Regions from separate parts of the Homo sapiens genome. Here region 1 is linked to region 2. Evidence: fine-mapped expression QTL. A gene starts in region 2. The other region holds a variant in brackets. All regions are shown on one strand. Distances are between the middles of the regions. Region 1 overlaps LETM2 (leucine zipper and EF-hand containing transmembrane protein 2). Region 2 holds the start of BAG4 (BAG cochaperone 4).

Evidence for each region. PIP is the estimated chance that this variant, and not a neighbour inherited with it, causes the effect.
Region 1: its variant is the best candidate, but not a certain one, in a credible set for the expression of BAG4 in atrial appendage (GTEx, PIP 0.81).

The regions. Positions count from the first base shown.
Region 1 is chr8:38,390,501-38,393,407 of GRCh38, forward strand. LETM2 (leucine zipper and EF-hand containing transmembrane protein 2) reads left to right here. Exons shown (of 11, transcript NM_001286819.2): 3 at 2,042-2,495. Among named protein-coding and RNA genes, the nearest start is that of LETM2, 5.5 kb to the left of the region's middle. RefSeq lists an enhancer at 262-763. The variant G/A (reference allele first, on the strand shown) is at 1,183.
Region 2 is chr8:38,175,158-38,178,064 of GRCh38, forward strand. It overlaps BAG4 (BAG cochaperone 4), which reads left to right and starts at 1,698. Exons shown (of 5, transcript NM_004874.4): 1 at 1,698-1,982. The coding sequence starts at 1,713. LSM1 (LSM1 homolog, mRNA degradation associated) reads right to left here and starts at 1,336. Exons shown (of 4, transcript NM_014462.3): 1 at 1,118-1,336. The coding sequence starts at 1,163. RefSeq lists enhancers at 304-1,161, 741-830, 1,162-2,019, 1,241-1,390, 2,301-2,640.

The DNA of each region.
Region 1 (2,907 bases), 220 kb after region 2:
ATTCCCAGATACTCGGGAGGCTGAGGCAGGAGAATCATTTGAACCCAGGAGGCGGAGGTTGCAGTGAGTCAAGATCGCGTCACTGCACTCCAGCCTGGGCAACAGAGTGAGACTCTGTCTCAGAAAAAAAAAAAAAAAAAAAAAGAACCAAGACAAATTTTTTATTTTTGTTTTTTTGTTTTTTGTTTTTTGTTTTTTTGTGAGACAGAGTCTTGCTCTGTCACCAGGCTGGAGTGCAGTGGCGCAATCTTGGCTCACTGCAGCCTCCGCCTCCTGGGTTCAAGCAATTCTCCTGCCTCAGCCTCCCGAGTAGCTGGGACTACAGGTGCACTCCACCACGCCCAGCTAATTTTTGTATTTTTGGTAGAGATGGGGTTTCACCATGTTGGCCAGGATGGTCTAGATCTCTTGACCTCGTGATCCACCTTCCTCAGCCTCCCAAAGTGCTGGGATTACAGGCATGAGCCAGCGTGCCTGGCGACAAATTTTTTTTGCTTTTGTTTTTGGTTTTGTTTTTGGCATGTTCTAAAATAATGAATATTGCATATGCATTTAATTCTATAGCTGTTGAGAACTTGTGTTGATTTCTTCCACATGAGCCTAGGAGGTCATGGCTGCAGTGAGCCGTGATCATGCCACTGTACTCCAGCCTGGGTGACAGAGTGAGACTCCTCCTGTCTCAAAAAAAAAAAAAAAAACAAAAAAAAAAACCAAAAAACTGAAAGAATGGAAAAAGACATCTCTTTGCCAGTAACTTTCTTTGCCAGTATCTGTCATATTTTTATTTTATTTTATTTTAGTTTTTTTTTTTTTTTTTTTTTTTAGACAAGTCTCGCTTTGTCGCCAGGCTGGAGTGCAGTGGCACGATCTTGGCTTATTGCAACCTCTGCCTCCCAGGTTCAAGTGATTCTCCTGCCTCAGCCTCCCGAGTAGCTGGGACTACAGGCACGTGCCACCACGCCCAGCTAATTTTTGTATTTTTAGTAGAGATGGGGTTTCACCAAGTTGGCCAGGATGGTCTCGATCTCTTGATCCGCCCGCCTTGGCCTCCCAAAGTGCTGGGATTACAGGCGTGAGCCACTGTGCCTGGCCCATATTTTTATTCTCAAACAATCTGATATGGTAGTTTAACTGCAAACTGTGGGCTGTTGCAATACCAGAAGCTAGAGACCCTTAATTGGG[G/A]TGCCCAATTCTAATTTTTTTTTTTTTGAGACGGTGTCTTGTTCTGTTGCCCAGGCTGGAGTGCAGTGGCATAGTCTTGTCTCACTGCAACCTTCACCTCCTGGGTTCAAGCGATTCTCCTGCCTCAGCCTCCCTAGTAGCTGGGATTACAGGTGCATGACACCACACCCGGCTAATTTTTGTATTTTTAGTAGAGACAGGGTTTCACCATGTTGGCCAGGCTGGTCTTGAACTCCTGACCTCAGGTGATCCACCTGCCTTGGCCTCGCAAAGCGCTGGGATTACAGGCATGAGCCATCGCGGCCAGCCCAATGTTCTAGAAGAATTTAGGTGAAGGGTATTTCAGCTGTAAGTTCCTCTCATTTGAGGGGTTCAAAGACACTGCATAGGCAAGGCGGTATTATGTGACTGGTTAATTCCTACAGTGACCATCAAATGTTTCTTTGAAACAATATTCCTTGGCCAGGCATGGTGGCTCATGCCTGTAATTCCAGTACTTAGGGAGGCCAAGGCAGGCGGATCACTTGAGGTCAGGAGTTTGAGATTATCCTGGCCAATGTGGTGAAAACCCGACTCTACTAAAAATACAAAAATTAGCTGGGCATGGTGGCCTGTGCCTGTAATCCTAGCTACTTAGAAGGCTGAGGCAGGAGAATCGCTTGAGCCCAGATGGCGTAGGTTGTAGTGAGCCGAGATTGCACCACTGCACTCCAGCCTGGGCAATGGGAGTGGAAAAAAAAAAAAGCTGTTTTATTTTGACCAGATGTACTATCTATTTCTTTAATAATATGTGCTTTATGATAGTGTGTGCTTTGTAATAGTATGTACTTAACTCAGAGGATGTTGCTTTTTATTCCAGATTCCCTAGCCATTTTGTCCATCCTACCTGCTCTTCTTATTCCCCATCATGTGCATTTCTTCACTTGCCAGATTCCCATTTAAATAAGACATGTATGAAGAACTATGAGAGCAAGAAGTACTCGGATCCTAGTCAGCCAGGCAATACAGTACTTCACCCAGGAACTAGACTAATACAAAAGCTACACACATCCACTTGCTGGCTGCAAGAAGTTCCTGGCAAACCTCAGCTGGAGCAAGCCACAAAACATCCACAGGTGACAAGCCCTCAGGCCACAAAAGAAACTGGCATGGAGATTAAAGAAGGCAAACAATCTTATAGACAAAAAATCATGGATGAACTAAAATATTATTACAATGGATTCTACTTACTTTGGATTGACGCCAAAGTTGCTGCCAGAATGGTTTGGAGGCTGTTGCATGGACAGGTCCTGACCAGACGAGAGAGACGAAGGGTAGGCAAGAATCATATTTGAGAAAGAAAATGTGAAATTAAAATGAACTATTTGGGAACTCAACTATTTAAATTCAACGTAAACTTCATCTTAAAAATCCCAGAGTAGGAATAATAACTGCTGGTGAGAACCAGTTTCTTGTCTGCAACCGACTTACTGTACAACTTTAGTCAGTATTCTGAAATTTGTTATATATTTTCCTGTATAACGGTTTTTAAAAAAAACTTTTATTTTAGGTTCAGGGGTACATGTGCATGTTTGTAGAATAGTTATAATTGTGTTTTTTAATCTTTCCAAGAAGTTGAGGGGCTTCATGTTTCAACTGTTGTTAATATATTAAGCATATGCATTTTTAAAACCCAATTTTGGCTGGGCACGATGGCTTATGCCTGTAATCCCAGCACTTTGGGAG
Region 2 (2,907 bases):
GCAACCTTCTCCTCCCGGGTTCAAGCGATTCTCCCGCCTCAGCCTCCCGAGTAGCTGGGATTACAGGCACCGCCATAGTGCCCAGCTAATTGTAGGAACGGGGTTTCACCATGTTGGCTAGGCTGGTCTTGAACTCCCGACCTCAGGCGATCTGCCCGCCTCGGCCCCCCAAAGTGCTGGGATTACAGGCGTGAGCCACCGCGCCAGGCCCGTAAAATGAAATTTTAACCATAGATTCTAAATTGCGTATTCACAGAGTAACTGAGACGATTGCAACTTATTTAAAACTATGTGTAAATCATCTTGAAACAAGTTAATGAGAAAGATCACATGATTAAAACAATAAAAAATGTTGCTTGAGGAATAATGCACAGACGGAATTTAGAAAAAAGGAAAGCCAGAACAACTGCAGACGGTTCTTTTCGCTTTTGTATAGGACTGAGCTCCTCTTCCGGACAAAAACCAGGAATAAGGGAGGTCTTCTTAGTAAAAGCAAAAGTAAATTGTCTTAAAAAAAAAAAAAAGGTTGCAAGTGATTTGGTCTTTCCAGAAAAGTCAATACCATGTCTAACAGTGGTCTCTACTACAATAACCTGAAGGTGCTAATGACCCTCACAGTAAAATAAGCTAGCAAATGGCCACACCGTAGAGCGCCTACATTTACTGCCAATTAAGTCCAACTGCCGCTGTCTTAATATTTTCGCTTTTTAATGAATCCTCTCTCTAGGTATTCCGATCCATCCACCGGTAACACGCTGATACTTCGAAATACTGCAGGCAGGAGTGGACGGGGGAGAAGCCCCCCCCCTCCCCGGGCTTCTTTCGTGTTCGGGCCTCTGCTGCCGCGATCCACGGAAGCAAGAATGAGTTCCATCGCTTGGGGCTCACCAGCTAGAGGGCTGGCGGAGGCTGCGAGGGGCAGAAGTAGCAGCAGGCTACTGGGTGGGCAAGCGGTGTGTACCGCAGCTGTGGAGGACATCGACGCGGAACGCCCGGATTGAGCTCAGAACACACCGGCCCCGCCCGGGACTCATTCTACAAGCTTCTTCGGAAGAGGCGCCCGCCCGGGAGGAAGGGTCTAACCCCGGGCTCCACCGGGAGGAGATAAACTACTCACTGTCAATGTCCTCGATGAGGCTGGCGGTGCCAGGCATATAGTTCATTTTGAACTGAAATAATGCTGCAATGCACAGCGGCGGGAGGCCAGCGCGTCCAAAACCTCTTCCCTCCTACCGCAGTCGCCGCCTCGGTGGGACCAAGCCCGGAATCCCGACCGAGACCAGCACTTCTGCCCCGGCTTTCAGCCGCCGGGGGCTGCCGGAAGCTCCTCCATATTACCCTTACCCACTTCCTGTAACACGTGTGGGCCCCCAGGAAGAGGCGGGGCAGCCGTACCGTTGGGGGACACCCTTTCCCTGTTCCTGTTAAGTAGGTAAGAGGAAACTCCATTGGATAAATGGCGAGGAAACGTATACTCCCTCTTAAGGAACACGGTGTCTTCCTTCGTCTCCGGGTTCCCGAGACCCCAGAGTCACTGACCTCCGTCCCTCAGCTTTCGGGGTTCGGCAGCAGAAGGGGCGGGCCCGGGCCTGGGATTGGCTGGCGTCGTCCGACCCCCTTCGCTGCTCTCCATTCGCAATCGCCCGCGGGCGCCTGCGCGATGGGTCGGCCGTGGGGAGCGGGGCGGGAAGCGCTTCAGGGCAGCGGATCCCATGTCGGCCCTGAGGCGCTCGGGCTACGGCCCCAGTGACGGTCCGTCCTACGGCCGCTACTACGGGCCTGGGGGTGGAGATGTGCCGGTACACCCACCTCCACCCTTATATCCTCTTCGCCCTGAACCTCCCCAGCCTCCCATTTCCTGGCGGGTGCGCGGGGGCGGCCCGGCGGAGACCACCTGGCTGGGAGAAGGCGGAGGAGGCGATGGCTACTATCCCTCGGGAGGCGCCTGGCCAGAGCCTGGTCGAGCCGGAGGAAGCCACCAGGTAAGCTTTGCACCCTCTGTCCTTGCGGGGAGGTGAGGGCCCTTGGGGCTGGGGTTCGTAAAGGATCGGGTTTCATACTTGTTTTCCTTATGTGGAGGAGGGTGTGTTGCGGGGGGTGTTGGAGAGACCGAGACTAAGATCAGAGGTTGGGGGGACATGCTTGTGTTCCCTTTGCCCCTCCTTTTCTGCTTCGACCCCAAAAAATATGTTTATTACCATTTAAAAAAGAAAGATCCTGCGCGGACTTACTAAGCTTAGCAGCAGGCTGCAGATCTCTCTCCTGGGAGCGGTGCTGGGTAGGGGTGGCACGGATCTACTGCTCCAGCTCTAGCAATTTATCCTGCGTGGCTGGCAGGCCGGCTCTCCCGGGGAAGGGAAGTGGCTGCAGCCCCCGATGCCGCTCAGGGACCCTCCCGAGGGGAAGGAACCTTTGCGAGGAGGAGGGATCTGGGCATTTAGCTGTTTGCCCCTAATGCCTTGCCTGAGATCGAATCATGAATAATCAGTGTTGTAAAGTACCTTTACGCGGATTGACTGATTTAATTTTCACGGCGACTGCAAGGTAAAATGGCATTACAGCGGCCCTTTTTTTTGTTTTCGAATAAGGAACCGGGGCTCTGCGAGGTTAACTCACTTGCCTAATACACTTGGACCTGCAACATTTTATTCTCCGTTTTCCTGCCGGACATATACTTCTGCTTTGTTAATACAGTCTTCTGGGTAGTGGGTTGTCGTTCTGCGGTGGCAGCATACCTCTCTGTTCGTTCAAGAATTATCCTCATTTGTTGAAAATGTAATAGTGAAATTCTCGTACATTGCTGGTGGGGATGTAAAATGGTGGAAAATAGTTTGGTAGTTCCTCAAAACATTAAGCATTAGAATTAGTCTATGACCCAGCAAGCCCACTCCTGGCTATATACCCAAG